3 linked regions of the Homo sapiens genome follow. The protein of the gene in region 1 interacts with the protein of each later gene in a pairwise test. Each region holds a gene or a part of one and is shown on either strand. Other genes may lie near its edges.

Region 1 (3,752 bases):
CAAATCACAGATCTTGCCCAATTATAATTTTGCAAATGGCCCAGTGAAAACCGCACTGACCTTTACACCTTGCTCATCCCAGAACAGGGCCACGGTGTTGTCACCAACAGGAATGGACCTCCTTCTGTTCCAATACCTCAGACAGCCATACACTTGGCCTGGATTTGAGTCTGCAAAACCATGAGGGGAGCAAGACTAACATGGCTAAAGGCTTCCCTGCTGAAAGCCGTTTTTTAAAAATAGCACTGCAACCGCCCCCATCATGCTTCCCAAAGCCAAGCCACTCACCCTTCTCTCCTTCGCTTCTACAGACCAACAGCCCAGAACCCTCAAGTCTAGAATCTGGAACTGGATTCTGAAAGGTGGGACCAAAAAAAAAAAAAAAAACAAGTGGGGCCTCTATCTCTCTCCTTGCCTGCATCCCCCTCTTCCCACCATCCCCCACCCCACCCCACCCCTTAACCACCACCTAGGGAAGGAAAACTTGCCAGAGTAAGAATCTAAAATGTTCAGTTCACCCAAAAGTGCGGCAGTAATCTTGCCAGAGCCAGTTCACAAACTGAGGGCAATGTCCCCCAGCGAGCTAAGGGGAACAGGAGAGAAGGAGAGGCAGTGGACCCAATGACACTGCTCCCCAGACAAAGAGAGGGCCAATCCAGGGACCCTGAGCTTTCTGGGGGCGTTATTGCATCATTCCAATCCCCACAGGAGAAGAAAAGGGTCCCCCTGTTATTACCATCCCCCCACCAAAAAAAGGGGAGGGGGATAAAGAAAAATAAAAGAAAGAGGGGAAGGCGCCCGTTTAAGAAAATCGTCACTTTTTCTCTTTCCTCGTGTGTGTGTGTGTGTGTGTGTGTGTGTGTGTGTGTGTGTGTAAGGGGCGGGGGGGTTCTACCCCGGACTTGGCCAGACCGTGGCCACACCCCCTCCCCTTTTCTAGGGAACTGCTGTCACAGCTACTGGGGCTGGGTAGGGGGGCGGGCGGGGGGGTGAAAGGGAAGACTTACAGGCTGACGTAGCTTTCAAGGCGGGTTTTGCCTCAAGCGGCCCAGGCCCCAGTAAACGAGTCTAGGGTTTGACCAAGCGAAGGAGCCCCGGCCCTCTGGGAACGGCCCTGACACACCCACTTGTCCGCGAACTGGGATCATGCAAACTGCTCGCTTGGTCTCAGGGCTCCGGGGAGCCACGTAGGAGACTCGAGGCTGGGGCACAAACAGGACAGGAGGGGGGTCCGGAAAGGCAGAACATCTGCCCAGCAGCCTTAAAGCATCATCCAACAGCCACCCCCTCCCCCGCGGTAGCCCGGGTGCAGTTAGTCGCGGGATTTACCTGCCACGGATCCAGCCACCCCGTCAAGACCTTTCCTCTACCTCCGAGCGCTCCAGCTGGCGGGGCTGGGGAGCCGCAGCCCCGCGGCCGCAGCCGCAGCCCCGGGCCCAGCCCGCTCCCCCTGGCTCTTCTCCCGCCCCCGCACACTGGCTCGAGGCGGGGAAAAGCTGCAGCCCCCAGTGCGAGATCCCAGACGGTTAGCTGGCACAGCTGCCCGCCCGCGGTAGAGCCCCTGCTCGGCAACCGCTCCCTAGCCCTTCTCTGCTATTACGTCACCCGAGCTCTGCACCTTACCTAGGCCAATCAGATGGTGAGCATAAAACTAAAATCGCCCTGAGTGGGCTACTGGGGACCAATCTTTTGTTTCCAGGCAGGAAGCGCCTGGGAGGGGGAAAAAACTGAAGGGGAGGGAACATGGAGAGGGAAAGGGAAAGGAGATGGAAACTTCTACACTGTCAGGGTTGTCTAGACAGAGGTGGGGCCATCAAAAAAGAGGGGCACCTGACAGGATGGAGAGGAGGGGAGAGTTCATGTATCTTCCTTAATTGCTCCCCTCAGGAGAATTGAGATTTCAGATGAATTTTCAGGGGACGAAATCTGTACAGCTACACGGGCACACTTTATTCGGGGGAAAAAACGGTTTCGATTTGGGACACCACCTGTCAGCCAGGCAGGTTAAACTGACGGAATCTCTAAAATACACAGAAAACTAAGAGAGACAGATGTGGCAGTGGAATTCAAAGAGATGGCAGTCTAGATCGGGAAACTACTTTTCTGCATATGAAGCACACACATTCCAAAAAGCAAGGAATTATACAAAAAATAAAAATAACTCTACTTCAAATGGAGCTTAAATGCGATTCTCTCTGTCCATCCTTTCCCTTAAACCTTCAAAGCTTTCTCTTGTCTTTAGGATACGGTTCAAATTTTTGCAGATGGCCAAAGCTTTATAAAATCTAACTCCAAAAATAATCTCTTGCTACTCCAAAATCCATACTCCCCATGATTTGGCTAGATTATGTAAATTATGGTGAATCCCAGCAAGGCGACAGTAAGCTGCCATAAAAAGTCAAATAATACAAAACAATAAGGACATTCAAATTATAATGATGTAAAATATGCCTACAGAAAACGATCAGAAGAGGACATAAAATTGTAACCGTTGGGTTAAACTAGTAGTATTATGAGTAACTTTTTCTTTCTACTTTCAAATTTATTTTCATAAAGATAAATATATCCTCACATACTTAAATGGCCAAAATAGATCATGACCCTTCCCAGTGAACTTTTATTCAATTTTCTCCACACTGTGTAACATCCAGCAATAATTTCTCCATAATGCCAACAAAATAGGTTTCAAGAACAAGAGTGAACTAATATATCTGCCCAGGTCCTTTTAGTAAAAGTCGTACAAAAGAGCTACAGATGACCACACGCGGTGGCTCACACCTGTAATCCCAGCACTTTGGGAAGCCCAGGCGGGCGGATCACCTGAGGTCAGGAGTTCAAGACCAGTCTGACCAATATGATGAAACCCCGTCTCTACTAAAAATACAAAAATTAACTGGGCATGGTGGCATGCGCCTGTAATCCCAGCTACTTGGGAGGCTGAGACAGGAGAATCACTTGAACCCAGGAGGTGGAGGTTGCAGTGAGCCGAGATTGCGCCACTGCACTCCAGTCTGGGCAACAAGAGCAAAACTCCGTCTCCAAAAAAAAAAAAAAAAAAAAAAAAAGAGCTACAGATTCGCCAGACAAAACATCTCAGGCAGTTGAAGAATGGGATGCCTCTTTTGGACTGATTCATTTTAAATTGTGATGATACAGGGAATTGAGAAAAACAACAACAATGATCCACTCTATGCCAAAACAAGAAAGAGGGAGGCAAAGACTAAGTAAACGATGTAATCCAGACCATTTTTAAGGGTCAGTTTGCATTTTATTTTCCTAAATTCAAAATATATATATTAATGCATATATGAGTATTACATTAACATTGTAGAAAGTGGTAGAGCTGGGATTTGTATCGAAATGAGTCCAAAGTCCATGCTTTTTCTAATATGATACAGTTTACTACTGCTAAGAATTAAATGTGGTATTACTGGTTTTGTTAAAATACATACTTGCTTTAAAAGAAACAGACTATATAAGATTGGCATTTTTAAAAAATCAGGCATTTTTAAAAATAGCTTTTTTGGTGTCGTGGTTGTCTTTAATGCAAAAATATACAACACTCTTTCTCAAATCCTTCATTAATAAGTTGGAATCAGGATGGTTCTGACTCCAGTGATTTTACAGATATCTTTTTAACTAACTTTGGAGTTAAAAAAAAAAAGCAACCACATCCCACTGGTTTTTTTCTACACCATGGTAAAAATAATCTAAAAAAATCACAAATCAAAATGAATGTAATTTATTCAATG
Region 2 (3,752 bases), on another chromosome or scaffold:
TAAAGGGTCTTCCCATTTTTGCAGCCCGCTCCACCCTGCCATCGCCCACATTTTAACCTGGGTCCCTATGAGGACATAAGGCACGTGAGGCATGCAGTCCTTGAGCTCGGGGACCCATTCCTCCTGGACATTGTGGTAAGAGGCAGGGTTTACGACAGAGAAGCAGATCAAAAACACATCCGTGTTGGGGTAGGAGAGTGGCCTCAGCTGGTTGTAGTCCTCCTGTGGGAAGAGCAGACAAGGGTTTGTACAGCCTGTGTAAGGTGTGTCCCATGTAGTTCCAAGGTCAGATTTCAGGTAAGAGTCCACTACAGCGCACTGGGATCCCGTTTCTTCCTCAACCCTGGAATCTGGTAGTTCTTTCTCTACTAGAACTAAAGGAGCCATCAGTCAGAAAAATACCTTTTTGTTACGTACAGAGATTATGTATTGCCCCTTCTTAAGATGAACTTAAAATATTTTTAGCAGTTTTATTGAGATATAACTTATATACCTACCTATATATACCATAAAGTTCACCCATTTATTTTTATTTTTAAATTGTATACATTTAAGGTGTACAACATGGTGTTTGATATACATATATATGCTACAGTGAAACAAATTAACATATTCATCTCCTTACAGCTTACCTTTAAAAATATATTTTACGGTGAGAGGACCAGAGACCTACTCTCTTAGCATATTTCCAGTATGCAATATAGTATTATTAACTATAGTTATCATGCTGTATATTACAGCTGTAGACTTATTCACCCTAGCTAACTGCAGCTTTGTACCCTTGATCAAAACCTCCCCGTTTCCTTTCCTTACTTGCCTCTGGTAACAATAGTTCTACTCTCTGTTTCTATGTATTCAAAAGTTCACCTGACCAGGCACAGTGGCTCATGCCTGTAATCCCAGCACTTTGGAAGCCAAGGCGGGAGGATCACCTGATTCCTTGAGCTTGAGATCAGCCTGGGCAATATAGCGAGACCCTATCTCTACAAAAAAATACTAAAATTAGCTGGGCATGGTGGCACACGCCTGTAGTCCCAGCTACTCAGGAGGCTGAAGTGGGAGGATGGCTTGAGCCTGGGAGTTTGAAGCTGCAGTGAGCCGTGATCATGCCACTGTACTCCAGCCTGGGCAACACAGCAAGACCCTGTCTCAAAAAACAAACAAAATAAAACAAAAGACCAAAAGTTCACCCATTTAAAGTGTAACATTCAGTAAAGATTATTGCAATTCTTCCATCATGTTGGAATTGTGTTATATTGAATATACTATATTTAAATTAGTGAGCTATTTGCCAAGGCAACAGGAATCCTCTCCTCACACGATTAAAAAAAATTATATCCAAATTTAATTTAGAATAAATGAACTAACATGCAAAACAAGAGTTATTGCCAAATTTGACACCACAATATTTGAAGAAATATGTTGAGTGAGGGTTTAGAGCTAAGAATTTTGGATTTGTTTCAAGTATTACTTAAAGGCCAAATAAAATGCTGGCTTAATTATTTTCTTTCTAAAGATTTTTCAGAGCAGAATATGCTCATGGAAGAGTTTCTGGTTACATAAGATATTTATGTATTTGCTATTTTAGTGGGAGTTGATAAATACAAAGTAAAACTGCGCATCATTTCGACTTTGGGAAAATGTTGGCAAGGGCTTTTACTGTATGTAAAATGTTTTAGGAGGTTCCACGGTAAAACCTGATATTTCAATAGAAAGTTTTATATGTTTTTATAGAATTTAGTAACACATAAACAGACAGTAACTTTGTGTGTAAGCGTGCATACACATACCATATTTATATATACATCACATATCGCAACATGACATGTGTCCATACACACCATACATAATTTGTATGTGTATACACACTATATATGATGTGTGTGCACTATATATGTGTGTATACTATATGTGCAACTAAACTTATATGTTCACACCTATGATATACATGTATTCATAGAGATGGGTTAATAAATAATTAACTCATTTATTAGGGGCATGACTACTCTTCATGAAACATTTCAGAAACTTACAAAACATGTATGTGCTCATTGCAAAAATGCAAACATTGAAGAAGTACACAGAGTTGAAGTGAAAGCTTGTTTTCATCCCTGATATGATGTCTAATAGTATTTCCTCTCCCCAGAGGGAGCTACTGCTTAAACATTGTCCTTCCAAACATTTTATTTTACTTTATTTTATTATTTGAGATGGAGTCTCAATCTATTGCCCAGGCTGGAGTGCAATGGCGTGATCATGGCTCACTGCAGCTTCAGACTGCCGGGCTCAAGCGATACTCCCACTTCAGCCTCCCAAGTAGCTTGGACTACAGGCACATGCCACCACACCCAGCCAATTTTTATTTTTTTTGTAGAGATGGGGGTCTCACTGTGTTGCCCAGGCTGGTCTTGAACTCCTGGGCTCAAGCAATCCTCCTGCCTCAGCCCCCGCCAAAGTGCTAGGATGATAGGCGTGAGTCACCATACCTGGCCCATTTTATATTTATGTATGTATACCACATACACATGTTTAGTTTAAAAACAAATTGATTAAATTGTTCATATTGTTGTGCCACTTGTGTTTTTTAAAACAATATATCATGGATATATTTTTAATATCAACCTTTCTATTGACTCTAATAATATATTTATTAGATAACGGGTTGATGGGTGCAGCAAACCACCATGGCACGTGTATACCTATGTAACAAACCTGCACGTTCTGCACATGTATCCCAGAACTTAAAGTATAATAAAAAAAATTTTAAAAAAGACCAGAAAAGGAAGTACACACATGTGCACACTACATACACATGAGACTGAAAGGAAGTACCTTAGAATGTTAAGTATGGTCCACTCCTGTTGGTGGGCATGCATTGATCTATTGTTTAGCTACTCAGAGTATGCAGAACACGGGACTCAGTATATGTGGCCACTACTGCTACTACTATTAAAACTTAAGCACAGGTTTTAGGTACCTAATGCAAAATGCAAAGCAAGAGGGCAATGATGCTGAAAAGTAAAATCCTAAAAAATAAACCCAAAACAAAAAAAACCCCCACTATTGTGGCTAATTTACCACATTTCTAGTCAATAATTGGGAGTTGGGTGCACAGCTGAATAATCACTGGTCATACTGGGAAGTTGTGCCAGGTCTACTGGGTTGCATCTCAGCCAAGTTGTGCCTATGTCTGTGTGTGTGTGTGTGTGTGTGTGTGTGTGTGTGTTTGTGTAGCTGGTGAGGCAGTGGAGAAAGGGATAGCTAAATTCTTGGCACTACCCTCTCCTCTTTACACAACTAGCTCTGAAAAACAAACCTCCTCTTCCATGGTCTCCCCACTTCTCTCTTTTCTCTCTGGAGTGTTCCCTTAAAGAGCAGCTGTAAGGCCCGTGAGCCAAGAAGTCTCCTTCCCAGGCTATAATCTACAGCTGTTCACCACACCACCTGCCCTCTGCCACTGCATGCTCCCATCTGGATTGTCATAAATGGAGTAGGGACCATGTTGATTTTTTTCTCATCCCTACAGGTACTCTTTCCGCAGTAAATATTCAATAAATGCTATTGACAGACTGGAAGAAATGACCTCTACAGTGACCTGCAAATGAACACGTGGCACTTCTGTGGGCCATTTATTGCAGTGACTTTTATTAGAATCACCTGGGGAGCTTTTAAACCATCCTGAAGCTCTGCTAATCAACTCCTTGCTCCACCCCCTTTTCTACTCTGGAACCAGCTAAATTAGAATCTCTGGA
Region 3 (3,752 bases), on another chromosome or scaffold:
GGGGCCAAACACTAGCTCGCGCCACCTGGGCCGAGCGTGGGGCTCCTCACGGCGTCTGCCCCAGACAGGAGGGGCAGCTCTAGCTGGGGCCCCAGCACTCAAAAGACATCCACTAGCCACATTTATTAGCTACGGAGTAACATTTATAGAAAAAAGGTACTTCATCTAGTAAAAAGATGAGAATTTCACAAAAGCACACAGGGCATGTGGCTGTAAGAAGGAAGGTGATTCCCCCCCAGCCACGTATTATTCTTCACCTGGTGATAAAGTACTGGGCGAAACTAAGGCCTGATCGCCTAGTTTTGTTTTTTAAAAAAGTTTTCCTGGCACACAGGCAGGCCTGTGCCTGTCTAAAACTGCTGTTGTGTTCCAAGGGCAGAGTACAGCTGCAAGAGGCCTGAACCTGTAAAGCAGAGAACGTTTACCATCTGGATCTTTACTGAACACTGCCAAACCCTGGTATTAAAACCAATTATGTTCTTAGAAAACTCAACTTTAATCAAAACAAAGTTAATCAAAAATTAACTTCTTAGAGCGGTGTGCCATTAATGCATTTTATATTCCTGGAAAACCCAAAATATTCCATCACAATGACAGTTAAATGAGAAAAGTTAAATAAGTCATTCTCAAAATCAGCCAATAATGACCTCAAATTAGCCAACAATAGTAAGGTGCATTTAATGGGAGAACAAGCTGTGTGGCGCTGTGAACTGGAAACGGAGTGGGGCCGGCATTCTGAGGAAGTGCGCGACCTTCAAAACACAGGCTGAGAGGGACGGCAGCTAATGCCACAATTTCAAGAATAGAAGCCATCAACTTCCTGCAACGATCACATTCTAGTCCCTGCATGGGGGAGGGAATTGTGTGAGATGCAGGTCATGCTATGAAGCCACTGTAAGGTCATCTTTTCATAGGAAATAATGTATAGATGGATAAAATTATGTAAGACATCCCTTCTAGCAACAACGTCAAAGCAGTGTCTGGTTTTGTTTCTCCTTTCTTGAAAAAGTCAAAGGAAGTATGCTTTATGCTAAAATTAGAAAATGATTTCAGCTGGTCAGAGTTGGATCACAGAATACATCATCCCACACAAGAAACTCTGTAGGAGAATGCAGAACATTTTAAACATGAGGCACAGTGCCTTCCCCGCTGAAGGGATGCCTTCCCAGCCACCAGTGAAAGAAACACTAAGACGGAGGGTCTGGCCACAGAGAAAAGCTGACTTGATATAAAATTGTATGAAGTAGAGTTTCAGGCTGCTGTTGAAAACCTGAGTGAAGCAGCTCATCCACTGTTCTTTATAAACACACGTGTACACACACGTCCCTGGGATAAACTGATCTCCATGAAAGAATGGAGAATTTTAAAATGGTAGAGCCATTAAAAATGAAATGCTAGCTAAAAGCCAATGAGTAGTTACAATCTTTACTGCTGAAAGAAATCAGATGGACTCTGAAACTCTGATGAGAATATCAGAGTACAGCAATCCTTCTTGAGCTACAACCTTCACATGAAGAAGAAAACATGAAAACTGAGCACACGACAGAGCTGATCCTAATAGCCTAATAAGGATGTGAGGAAATCTGTAAGCAGAAAACGCCTGTGTCATCGTCATTCATTCTTTAAAAGCTCTGCCCAGTTTTTCCGTATTACTTGATAAAGATGACGACTGTTAAAACAACCCGATACCAACTTCTTGAGCACAAAACACCAGGAGAGGTTTAAACACTGAAGCTTCAGTGTTCATCTATTCTGAAAAGTTGTAAAAAAAAAAAAAAAAAAAAAAAAAAAAGTCTCTAAATATCCAAAGACTTGTTGAGCTTTTCTAAGTAAAAGACACCTCAATTTCTTAAAATCAACAGTGTGTCATAAATTCTTTTAATGCCTTCAACATGAGTCTGGCCCTTTTCATCATCATAATCATTTATTTTTTGTTTTCTTAAATGAAGCATAATAAACAGTTAAAATTCTCAGAAAAATCATCTATAGTTGAGTGTAAAACTCCCCTAAATCAGTCTTCTAGGGCCACACGGAGCAGAAGCAGCTTCCCACCCAAGCACCTCTGAACTGTGCGTGAGGAGGCACAATTCAGGGTTGTTTCTCGAGAACACTCATTGGAAAACAATTCACTACTGCACGAAGAGGGCCAAAGATCTGCAGAGAAATGTGAAGCAAGTGTTTTGCACTTTTTATCCAAATATTGATTAGGTTTTAAAGCAACTGATCACTTGCTGACAGCTCAGCCACGGGATGCCACGCCTGGAGTCTGGAAGGAGGAGAAGCACCAAGTCCTTACGGTATGAGATGGCACTGAATGAGGCTTTATGGTGGGGTTTCCCACAGACGTGACCTTCGTTTGCTTCTGTAGGTGCTCCACCCATTCCTGCAGATCCTGCTGGTTGTTGCACGACACTAATATCCGCTCAATCATGCTCCCTATAGGAGAGAAGGAAAAAATAGGCCGAGTGGAAACACAGGTAAAAAGCACGTGCGTGCACACCCCCCAGAATTCCACTCAGCGCTTAAACACCACCTTCTGAAATACGCAAGCAAGAATCTGCACGCGGGGACAAGCTGCCTCTCCTCCCCGAGACACAGCACTCACACAGCTTGTGCCTATCACCTGATATTTCAAATGCATTTCTATGATTTTCACTGTCCTCAAGCTTTGTGATTGTCATTCCTGTCGTTGGAAGCTTTCCCTAAAAAAGACCCCCCCCCACAAAAAAAAAAACAATTAGTGCTTTTCTAGAAAAAGGTACCATTATTAAAGTCAATATTAAATGATTTTAGAATTGGTGGAGGAACTGTGTTTGTGAACCAAAAAAAGCTCATTTGTAGCAGATGTGTGTATAATACAAAAATTTTTATCTCAAATAATAAATTATAATACTGTACTGTAAGCAAGAAACTCAACTGGCGACAAGGGACAGAGTGACAAGCCCAAACACACACTGTATCTGATGAGCTGCTACTAAACATAGACACCAGGACAAAAGACATCACACATTATGATTTTTAAAAAACTACCGTGTATAACAGTTGTTTTAAATGATGTTTTTGCAGAAAAGAACCATGTATTTTCCTCGTAAAGAAATGCAGAGGAAGTTCCAAGTTTAAAGTCAAAATAAGGGTGGGAAATTGAGGCAAGAACAAGAATTTCATAACATTCTACTTTGTAAAACAGAAAATAAGTAGTTGTGCTAAATGCTGCACACAATGCACAAAATGGTTGGCAAACCAGTGCTCCCTGAAAACAGAAGAAATCGGTAACTGCACCAGGAAATGTCAATGGAAAGATACCAGAAAGGGGGTACAAAGTGATCATTACAAACAAGTCAGAAGTGAACACAAAACATCCTGGCACAGCTGACAGAAACCACAGTACATGGTGGCCCACCAAGTCCGCAGGAAGAGGCAGTGGGCGTCTGGGCAGCGCTGCCTGGGGAGCACTCCATCAGCTGCGGAGCAGGATTCTACATAAGCACCTCCAGACGGAGTGCTGCTCAACTGGTGTGGGGAACGTGCCCCCACAGAGAATGGGTGGCAGTGCCACAACCTGGCAGGGGCTCAGACCTCCAGCAAGTAAGGGCCAGAGAGGCTGCTGATACCCTACAGTGCCCAGGACAGTCTCACCGAGACCCCCAGCCCCTGGCCATGAACGATCCAGTCCAGAACGTCAGCAGTGCCCAGGCTGAGAAATCTCATCCTAAAGCATGGCCGGTGGAAGAGGAGACTGCTGGACACTTCTG

The links.
Region 2: the proteins of PAK3 (region 1) and RHOJ interact in binary tests that used the Homo sapiens proteins (3 or more experiments, as listed by UniProt).
Region 3: the proteins of PAK3 (region 1) and ARHGEF7 interact in a two-hybrid assay, tested with the Homo sapiens proteins (one study listed by BioGRID).

What each region holds. Positions count from the first base shown.
Region 1 is NC_000023.11:111,093,993-111,097,744, reverse strand, and holds the start of PAK3 (serine/threonine-protein kinase PAK 3), read right to left. Parts: upstream 1,555-3,752; 5' UTR 1,330-1,554; intron 1,203-1,329; exon of another isoform or gene 1,008-1,202; intron 356-1,007; 5' UTR 289-355; intron 171-288; 5' UTR 61-170; intron 1-60. UniProt on the Homo sapiens protein: Serine/threonine protein kinase that plays a role in a variety of different signaling pathways including cytoskeleton regulation, cell migration, or cell cycle regulation.
Region 2 is NC_000014.9:63,277,441-63,281,192, reverse strand, and holds part of RHOJ (rho-related GTP-binding protein RhoJ), read right to left. Parts: intron 223-3,752; coding exon 58-222; intron 1-57.
Region 3 is NC_000013.11:111,279,222-111,282,973, reverse strand, and holds part of ARHGEF7 (rho guanine nucleotide exchange factor 7), read right to left. Parts: intron 2,703-3,752; coding exon 2,624-2,702; intron 2,437-2,623; coding exon 2,297-2,436; coding exon of another isoform or gene 2,240-2,296; exon of another isoform or gene 1,850-2,239; intron 1-1,849. UniProt on the Homo sapiens protein: Acts as a RAC1 guanine nucleotide exchange factor (GEF) and can induce membrane ruffling. Functions in cell migration, attachment and cell spreading. Promotes targeting of RAC1 to focal adhesions. May function as a positive regulator of apoptosis.